Linked DNA regions of Homo sapiens. The protein of the gene in region 2 interacts with the protein of the main gene of each other region in a biochemical or structural test. Each region holds a gene or a part of one and is shown on either strand. Other genes may lie near its edges.

What was found.
Region 1: the proteins of RGS3 (region 2) and SLCO1C1 interact in a test that uses a peptide from one of them, tested with the Homo sapiens proteins (one large-scale study listed by IntAct).
Region 3: the proteins of RGS3 (region 2) and HES4 form a complex in vitro, tested with the Homo sapiens proteins (one large-scale study listed by BioGRID).

The regions. Positions count from the first base shown.
Region 1 is NC_000012.12:20,736,832-20,740,331, forward strand, and holds part of SLCO1C1 (solute carrier organic anion transporter family member 1C1), read left to right. Parts: intron 1-275; coding exon 276-441; intron 442-3,352; coding exon 3,353-3,500. UniProt on the Homo sapiens protein: Mediates the Na(+)-independent high affinity transport of organic anions such as the thyroid hormones L-thyroxine (T4), L-thyroxine sulfate (T4S), and 3,3',5'-triiodo-L-thyronine (reverse T3, rT3) at the plasma membrane.
Region 2 is NC_000009.12:113,578,727-113,582,226, reverse strand, and holds part of RGS3 (regulator of G-protein signaling 3), read right to left. Parts: intron 1,300-3,500; exon of another isoform or gene 1,222-1,299; intron 156-1,221; exon of another isoform or gene 1-155. UniProt on the Homo sapiens protein: Down-regulates signaling from heterotrimeric G-proteins by increasing the GTPase activity of the alpha subunits, thereby driving them into their inactive GDP-bound form.
Region 3 is NC_000001.11:998,464-1,001,338, forward strand, and holds HES4 (transcription factor HES-4), read right to left. Parts: upstream 1,635-2,875; 5' UTR 1,511-1,634; coding exon 1,403-1,510; coding exon of another isoform or gene 1,325-1,402; coding exon 1,229-1,324; intron 1,151-1,228; coding exon 1,063-1,150; intron 970-1,062; coding exon 596-969; 3' UTR 501-595; downstream 1-500. UniProt on the Homo sapiens protein: Transcriptional repressor. Binds DNA on N-box motifs: 5'-CACNAG-3'.

The DNA.
Region 1 (3,500 bases), on a different chromosome or scaffold from region 2:
GAAGATCCTAGAGGCTGTAGACTGAAAGCTATAAGCTAAGAACTGGACATCATGTGAATTTGTAAACCTCTAAAGATAACTTTCAAGAGAAAGCTGTTTATTAGTAAACTCACATTTCATGACCAGAAGCTGCCATTTCTGATGACAACTGTGTTTCTAAAAGGCAAATTTTGTTCATAGTATCATTTATATCACTCAAGAACATTGATTTTTTGAAAATATTCGGGTGCTACCTGCTAAGAGGTAATATTTTATATTGTTATATTTCTTTTCAGAACCAAACCTGTCTCTTATCATGAACGAGCTCTCTTTTCAGATTGCAACTCAAGATGCAAATGTTCAGAGACAAAATGGGAACCCATGTGCGGTGAAAATGGAATCACATATGTATCAGCTTGTCTTGCTGGTTGTCAAACCTCCAACAGGAGTGGAAAAAATATTGTAAGAAATCACCTCTCAAGTATATGGCGATGGTCCTGTTACAATATAAACAACAAAACTCTATGGGGGCTCACAGCAGACCACTACTAGTAGGAGGCTTGCCTCTTACCTCTGCCTGGTCCTTTTTTGTAGAAAAAGAAAATGTTATAACCATTCCTAGTGGTACTGGAGTTGCTGAAAAAATTAGGGTGAGAATTAGAGTCATCAAATAGGGTGGAAGAGATTTTGTAATTATGTAGTCTATTTCTCTCATTTTGCTTATAAGAAGTGTTAGCCCTGAATTAGAATGTCTGTCGTATGATCATCATAATAAGATATGCTTTCAGATCCATGTCCCCTGGCCCTAAGATCCGTGGTCCTTGGAGGTTTTAGGGAATGAACAAATAGAGGCCAGTATTAGGAGGCTTAGCTCCAGAGATTCTAGACCTTGGGGTCAGGGATCTGATAATGAGGAGGTTGATGGTTCTAGGACAACTTTGGAAAATCAAGCCAATTTGTATAATAATGAAAGGGCAGGTGGGCTGGAATGGAGGGTTTCCATAGGGCAGAAGAGGGAGATGAGGTAGGAAATATAGGTAGGAATCTATTTTAGTCAGTCCAGGCTGCTATAACAAATATACCATAGAATGGGTGGCTTAAACAACAAACATTTATTTCTCATAGTTCTGGATGATGGGAAGTCCAAGATCAAGGTGCCAGCAGAACTGGTTCCTAGTGAGGACCCACTTTCTGGTTTGCAGATGACCATCTTCACCTTTTATCCTCACATGGCAGAGAGCAGACAGGGAGAGACAGGTCTCCTGTCTCTTCTTATAAGGGCACTAAAATCACATTCATGAGGGCTACACCCTCATGAACTAATTACCTCCTAAATGCTTTACTCCAAATACCATCACATTGAAGGTTAGGATTTCAACATATGAATTTTGGGAAAATATTCAATCCTTAACAGAAAGCAATTGTGAAGGATGTAAAGTACTTCAATCATTAACAGATTCACCCTTCTCAGCACACCTTTCCATTCCTGTCCCAAACAGACTCTTCCTTATCCTTGCTCTCTGAGACTGCTTTCTATTTGTGACTGATTAAATTTGCCTTTATTTGACAATCCTAGAGGGCAGAAAATTAGACCACCCATGTATCTCATTTATTTATATATCCTTATCAACTGGATATGAATACTTAGGCTGTATATCCACAGATATACAGTTAAGTTTGTTAATTTACTCTGTTCATTGTATTATTATTTTGACTTATTTACAGCAGAAAGGATTGGTTTCTAGCAACAATGAATAAGACTACCTACTCATCTGAAACATGTTTTCATGCTTCTCTTTTTTTCTTTTCTTTGCTTTCTTCCTTTGTTATTTTTCTTTCAGCTACTGTTATTTTTGCTCACAGCTGCATGAAGGTTTTTTTGTAATGAGAGCTACCATTTATAAAAGACATTACAAGGAAAGGTTAAAGATTGGTGTTAAAAGAACAAAATTACATTTAAATCTCATGGTCCTGAAATAATTTGCATTATTTTCAGTATTTTCTTCATGTGAGAACTGAGGCACTGAGATACAAAGGACTTGCTTAACTCATTTATCTAGTGAGCGACCAGAATTAAGATTCAAAGGTTTCAACTTGACATTACAAAAAATCTATATTGCCACTCTTTCTAGAAAAGTAAATGCCAGCTTTATTTATGGTCTAAAAACTCACAAACTCTTTTGTGATTAAAAATGATAACATTATATATATGCATTCATAAATAAAATTTACAGAAATAAACTATTGAGGGGTTATACAAATTGTCTCTCTTCAGTCAAAATTTAGTTGAGTTTTATGCACCAGAATTATTTTTTTCTCATAGCCACTGTAAATTATGTCATATCCTCAAATTGTTCCCATTTACTTAACTAAGTTTTATCAAATGCCTAAAATGAGAGTCTATTCCATTCCCCAGTTGCATAATAACAAAGCAGCAGTTTCTGCTTTCATGGAGGTTACATTCTGTTGGGAAAGTATGTTTTAAAAATAAGTAAATACAGGATATCCTGATAGGTAGTAAGAAGCACTGTAAAAAAAAGACATACATTAGAATAAGAAGATGGAGAGATGGGAGTTGTTTTTTTTTGTTTTTTTTTTTAAATGGATAGTCATAGAAGGTCTCTATTAAAACCTCTAAACGGAGAACTAAAGTATGGACGCCAGCTGTGTAATCACCGAAGAGAAGAGCTGCCCGGGCAGAGAAAATAGCAGGGCCGTGAGGCATGGATGAACTTGCCAGGTTTGAGGGGATGTTTGGAAAGGGCAAAATGGGGCCTTTGCAAGGGTCATGTGTGTGGCTTACACAGAAGAAGAGAGGGAAGATCACTGAATGGTGAGATTAGAGTGGCATCCAGGTGCTACATGATGGAGAAAGTGTAAACTGTTATAAGGATGTGGGGTTTCATGCAAGTATGATGAGAAACCACTGGCAGGTTGAGGGTAGTGATGCAGTCTGACTGCCATGTTTAAAGGTTCACTTTACTTACTGGGTGGAAAGCAGATACTAGCTAGATAAGATTGGAAACAAGTTGCGCATAAAGGGAGCATTGTAACAATCTAGGCAAGAAATCATGGTTACTTAGCATTGGAAGTGGTAGCGAAGGAGGTAAGGTATGGTTAGATTAGGCAGGATTTGCTGGGAGATTGTTGTACAGGATTAGTAGTTTGTAGATAGTCATCTGCTCTTTAGATAATGAAATGTTGTATCTATATAGATTTTGCTTTGCTCAATATACTGTAATACAAAAAAATAAAAGAATATTTCCTCATTGTTTACATAATGCATGGCTACGGTAAACATTTTTAACATAACTGTCTTTAACTTTATTTAAATGTTACTGAAATAATTGGACTTTTCCCTATCGTGTTACAGATATTTTACAACTGCACTTGTGTGGGAATTGCAGCTTCTAAATCCGGAAATTCCTCAGGCATAGTGGGAAGATGTCAGAAAGACAATGGATGTCCCCAAATGTTTCTGTATTTCCTTGTAATTTCAGTCATCACATCCTATACTTTAT
Region 2 (3,500 bases):
GCCCTGACAGCCAAAAGCCATGCTCGAAGCTGAGAAGTCTTTGAAGCCCTGGGGAGTCTGTAATGGTGAAGCCCCACAGCTGGGAGTCAGTGTTCAGCCATGGCTTGGGGCAGCTGCAGGCTGCTGCACACACGTGTCAGGGGTCACGCTGGCATCTGGGAGCACAGATGTGAGCGGATGTGAAAGCTCGGCACGGGTAAGAGCCACAGCCTGGGAGTGTGAAAGTGAAAGTGGAGCCCTGCAGAGCAGAGAAGGTGGCTGGGCAAGGGAGGGGAGGCCTTGGAGGACTCTAGCGTGATCTGGCCAAGGTCGGGAAGGGCACGCCTTAGGCTATGGCTCACAGGCCAAAGACAGGTGCCTGCTGATGCTGTGGCCTTCTTGCCCTGGAAATCCTGCCTGCAGCTCAGAGGTGACTCCACACAAGGGCCCTCTCAGACCTCATAGCCTCAGACTCTGAAACAACAGCGATCCGAAATCCCCACTGCATAGACAGAAAGGCTGAGGCCCAGAGAGGAGCAAGGGGCAACCTAGAATCACACAGAGGTGTCAGGTAGAGCCAGTCACCAACCTTTAGGCCTCAAGGTGTCCACGTATGAAATGGGATAACCAGCATGCCTGAGTAACAGATCAGGAGCGTATGCTGGAAAAGCTGGAAAGCTCGAAAGCTCCTACAGAAGATGGTGGTGTTGGAGTTAGTGCTTTAAAAAGCATTGATCTAGAGGGAAATTCTGAAGTTAAGGACCTCAACCAGAGGCACGTGTTTCCCACATACACCAAATTTTGCCAAACACCAGAGTCAGTGTTGGCAATTGTAATGTCAGGGCCTCCAGTCCAGAATTCTCATCTGGAAACTAAGGGCTGTGCTTCAGTCCTATCAGGCTGTTCCCAGGTGGACAGAAAGACCCTCCATTGGGTAGACAGGAAGGCTGAGGGCCCAGTCTAGACAGTGACTTAGTGACTTGCCCAAAGCCACCCTGCACAAATTAGGGGCTAGGCTGGGGCCAGAGTCCAGGCCTTCTGGCCCTGTTCTTCTCAAGCCCACTTCTGATCTCTGTCCCCATGAACAAACCAGTCCCCAGCCCATCGCCCCACCCACCAGGGAGCATTCTCCATCAGGAGAAACAAACTGCCCTGCAGCCAGCTCCCTGGGGCCCCTCAGTCCTATCACCCTACCACATGGCCAGACCTCCCCCCGACCCACCCCCTGGCCCAGCCACCTGCCTCTGATAGTCCTTGGGGAAAGACGGAAGGAAGCAGCAACCGGGTGCCCTCAGGGCCTGGCACGGAGTGGCACAGAGTGGCACTGAGTGGGGAGCGGGCCGCATTTCCCCTTTCCTGGGTGGTGAGGGTGGGGCCCAGGCCTGTCCCAGTGGTGACTGTCAGTCAGAGCCCGCCCACCCCTTGGGGAAAGTGCAGCAACAAACCCAAAACCAGAAATGCAAGTCAGCCTGCCTCTGCCAACCCTGTTCTAAATCGAGGCCAAACCAAACAAAGCCAGGAGGGGAAGTGCCACTCAGGCAGGGGTACTGCCCCCAGAGGGCACCTACCCAGAGAGATCAGCCGAGAAACTAACCAAGATGGAAGGGTTCTCAGAGGGCCCAGTGGTTATGTGCTCAGATACCCGAGCCAGGCTGATTTTGATCCCAATGGGGCCACTTTTTAGCTGTGCAACTCTGGCCAAGCCTCTCAACACCTCAGAGCCTCCGTTTCCTCATCTGGAATTGAGCCCAGTGATATCATACTGGACTCACAGGACTATTTGAGTCTCCTCACAGTGCCTGGCCCTGGAAAAGCTTTTGATACAATGGGAGCTATCAGTGGTCTTATTTTAGAGATAAGAAACCTGGGGTCCCAGAGGGTAAAGGAATTACCTAAGAATGAGAGGCTGATGCAGGATTAGAACTCATATCTCCTGCCCAGGGTCTCTCCCTGTTTCCTTGGAGCCTTACACACAAGTGTTTGGGGACCTCAGAGGGCTGTAGAAGGAGGAGGAACAGCCTGGAGTGCTGCCTGAGGCCCCGCACCTGGGTGCATCCCACATCAGCAGATGCTGGCGAACAGGGCCCAGAGCTCATGGTTCTTTCTGTGCTCCCAGGCAGGTCTGTATGAACAGGGACTGCGTGCAGGTTTGGTAAGGCCCCTGTTCTTGGGAGAGCTGGGGTGGGAAGTGGTTTGACGGGAGCTCCGGAGCAATTATAGGAAACCCGAGAAACCCAGGGGTGGGAGGGTGGCAAGTGTAGGAGAAAATTAGGGCAGGAGGGGAGGCAAAGATGAGGGGGAGGTTGCAGAACACATGGTGGGCATGGGATTTGCCCTGTGAGCAACGAAATGCCACAGGCAGAGCTGTGCTGTGTCAAAGCTGCTCTGGGGAATGTGGGCAGGATGTGTGGATGGCAGGGAGGACTGGGGCACGCATACATTCATGCATTCTCCAAGCACTGAGGTAGGTACTAGGAGGACGGCAGGGAACAAGTCAGACACAATCTCTGCCCTCAGTTAAGTAGAAAAAACAGAGGTTAGACAACTAGTTTGAAGGAGCATGGGGACTGCTCTGATAGAGGAAGTACAGGCAGCTGGGGACCCAGTGAGACAGCTGTTGCAACAGCTGAAGTAACAAGAATCCAGCCAGGGCGCCCCAGGAAGACCAGCTTGCTCACCCAGGGCCTTGGGTCTAGAGTGCTGGAAGCCACTGCCCCACCCTCCCAAGGTGGGGGTCTGTGTCTTTCCCATCCATCACTTCTTTGGCTTGGCTGGACCAGGTTAATTCTGCCCATGTCTCATCTGCTGTAAGCACACAGGAAATGAACCAGGCCCTCTAAATGGAGTCACTGTTTAGGACCTAATCAAATCCTCTCCCAAATCCAATCCAGAGCTCAGAATAGGCTAAGGAGGGATGGCAGCTATGACACCCAGAGTTCACACTCATACCAGCTTTGGCTCCTGGGCCCCAGATGCCCACCGGATGTTGGGTTGAGGGTAGTGGTGGGCTGCTGAAAGTGACTTGTCCAACATCACACAGCTACTCACTGAGCAGCCAGGTTTGCTGACCCAGGGACAACCTGCAGCTCTCACTCCGATGATTCATCACAGCCACCACGGATGCCGGGCTCTGCATCTGCCCTCGAAAACCACTTCCTGCACTGGGGGGGTGTAAACTGGGGTTTGCCTCTGTCTCAGGGTGGCCCTTAACAGCCAGGATTTTACTGACAGAGCACTGGACATGCAGCCAGAAGACCTGGACTGGAATCTTCACTCCATCATTTGCTAGCTGTGTGATCCCAAGCTACCCCACTCCAAGCTTGGTTTTCTCTGCCATGAAAGTGGGTGAGGATGCCTGCTGCTTCCTGTGCCAGAGACCTAAGGGGACCAAGTGAGAAAGGGCAGGAAGGCACTCTGTGAACTGTAAAGTCCTTTGAGAAAGGGAGAGGCTGTTAGAATTCCTGCCCTGCCTTGGACCCCCAGGCTTTCAAGATGGGCTGTTCCTTCAAGCTTGGCATGCT
Region 3 (2,875 bases), on a different chromosome or scaffold from region 2:
TTCAGGGCCAAGGGCGGCCGCCCTCATCCCAGCGCCGCTCAGGACCGCAGCCTCCGCCTTCCGCGGTCCGGGGACTGGGAGTCGGGAAAGGGGCCTCCGAAAAGTAACTTGCCCGGCGATGCTGCGCGACCGCCTTCCAGCACCGGGAAGATTCTGGGCACTCAGGGACGTTGAGCTTCCCACCTGAGCCTCCGGGGGGACCCCTCACAACCGCCACCGCAGAGCGAGGCAAACCCAACGCGGGGGCAGAGGGCGGGTGCGCATGCGGGGCTGCAGGGATGCGGAGGGGAGGGCGCGGAGCGGAGGGCGCGGAGCGGAGGGGTCGCCCTCAGTCCTCGGTCCCGCCCCCAGCCCGCCCCCCCGGGCCCGCCCGACGCCCCCAGCCACCTGCAGACCGCGGCCCTGGGAGGAGGGCGGGACCCCGGCGCGGCGTGGCTGCGGGGCGCTCCCAAAGTCAACTCTTCACCAAGACAAAGAAAGAAAACTCGTGACGCAGACTCTGGAATAATAAATACGTTTTCTCTGCTACAGTCTCGGCAAAGGCCACGGCCCTAGAACGGGGCGCCGCCTCCGATGCAGTCTCAGGGCCACAGCCTCAGCGCAGCCACGGCCTCCAGGGCCCACCCGGGCCCTGCGGCCCCGCCCTGGGGGCGGCGGGCAGCGCCCGGGTCAGACCCGGCAGCAGCGGCGGCGCGAGCAGAGGGAAGGGGCCGCCGAGCGATGGCAGCAGCGGGCGGCCCGCGTAGACCTCGGGCGCTGGGGCCTCTGCGGGGGCAGCCGGGGACAGCGAGGCCGGGCGGCGGGAGGGTCCCAGCTGGCGCAGGCAGGCTGCCAGGTGGCCCAGCAGGCGGGAGCGCACGTCGGCCGGGACGCCCTCGCAGCCGGCCAGGAAGCGGTTCACCTCCGCCAGACACTCGTGGAAGCCGGCGCGGTACTTGCCCAGAACGGCGGGGTCGGCGCTGAGCGCGGCTGCGGGAGCGACACAGGAGGAGAGGTCGGTGCCGGGTCCCGGGGGTCCCGCGCCCTCCCCCCGCCTCCAAGCCGCCGCCGCCCGCGCCTCACCCGTCACCTGCACGCGACGCAGGCTCCGCAGGTGTCTCACGGTCATCTCCAGGATGTCCGCCTTCTCCAGCTTCGAGTGGCGGGAGCTCTGGGGGCGGGGATAGGCGGGAGGTCCAGGTCAGCTGCGACCCAGACTCCGGGTCTCGGGCCTTCGCCCCCGACTTACCTCTTTTCTGAGGGCGTCCAGGATGAGGGTTTTGAGCTGAGCGAGGCTCTCGTTAATACGCGCTCGGCGCCGCTTCTCCATGACCGGCTTGGAGGACTGCGGGTCGGGCACCGGCTGAGTCCCGCGTCCCTCCCGCCCCCCGGTCGCCCCCCTCACGCCCGGCCGGGACCCCACCTTGCGGTGCTCGGCCGCGCTCCGGGGCTTGTCTGGGGTCCGGCTGGCGCTGGCCGGCGCTCCTGCCATCGGCGAGGCGCTCGGTTTCCCCGGCGTGTCTGCGGCCATGGTGCGCCCCGCGCCTCCCCGTGCCGGGTGGAGCGCGCCGCCACGGACCACGGGCGGGCTGGCGGGCGAGCGGCGAGCGCGCGGCGATCCGAGCCCCTAGGGCGGATCCCGGCTCCAGGCCCGCGCGCGCCTCAGGCCGTTTCCCTATTTAAGGCCTCGCCGCCGCGGGGTGTGTGAACCCGGCTCCGCATTCTTTCCCACACTCGCCCCAGCCAATCGACGGCCGCGCTCCTCCCCCGCTCGCTGTCAGTCACGCCTCGGCTCCGGGCGCGGCCTCCGCGGGCGACAATGGCATGCGGGGCCCCCGCCCGCGCCCCCCTCCGACACCGCTGGGGACAGGGCCGGGTGATCCCGCGCTCCCCGATGCAGCCGGGGCCGAGCAACGCGCCGGGAGGGGCCGCTGGGGGCGAACGGGGCCCGGGACCCCCGGGGCTGGGCGGAGTCTCGGGGCTCACTCTCCCGCCCAGGGGGCCGGGAGCCGGGGCTGGACGGAGCTGGGGCTGTGGCCGCGCGGGAAGTCGGGAAGGAAATTCCCCCAGTGGCGCAGGGTCCGGCGGCGCCGAGGGGTGGGCGAGCCTCGGTCTCGAGCCTCTTGGCTTCCTCCGCCCGTCCCCACTCCGGTCCCGGTTTGGGCCCTGCTCGGTCTCCGAGTTTGATCCGACACCGGCTCGGCCTCCGGGGGTCCCACCCTCAGGTGTGCGGCCTGGAGCACGGAGGGCTGCAGAAAGCCTTGGGAGCGACAGAGCCGGGGGAAGGTCGGCGGCCGGGTCGGCAGGCGGGAGGGCGGAGTCAGCGGACGGCGAAGGGGCGCACGGGTGGCCCCGCAGAGCAGGGCCGGTGATGGCGCGGGCCGGGCCGGACCACGAGGAGCAGAACGTGCGCGTGACGCGAGCGGGCTGGTGACGTCACCAGGCACCCGGGGCGATGACGCAAGCCTGCTGGGATGACGTCATGTGGCCCGTGTCGCCACGTGCTTCCAGGTGACCCGCTGGCGAACTCAGCAGCAGCAAAGTGGGGCTCACAGAAAAATGAGGGGCCACTGTTAATATAACTGCAAAGGGGCAGGTTGCGTAAAACAGGGCTGTGGTTATTTTCGTGTTTGCTGTTTTTATTTCGAATGCCGCTGCGGGGCACGTTGGTCCTTTCCGCACTCGGGGTCCCCGGCGGCCTCACGCGTCCGTGCAGCGGAGGCTTCCTGAGCCCCCTGGAGAGCCTGGCCTGGGCCCGGGTGTGGAGACCCTCCCGGGCTTTCAATCCGGGCAGGAGGCAGATGGCAGACTCAGCAGTCACGTAAGAGAACCGAATTAGGTGGGTGGCCTGGGTGGACAAAAGCCTTCTTGACGCCGGGTGGTCCCAAAGGCTTCT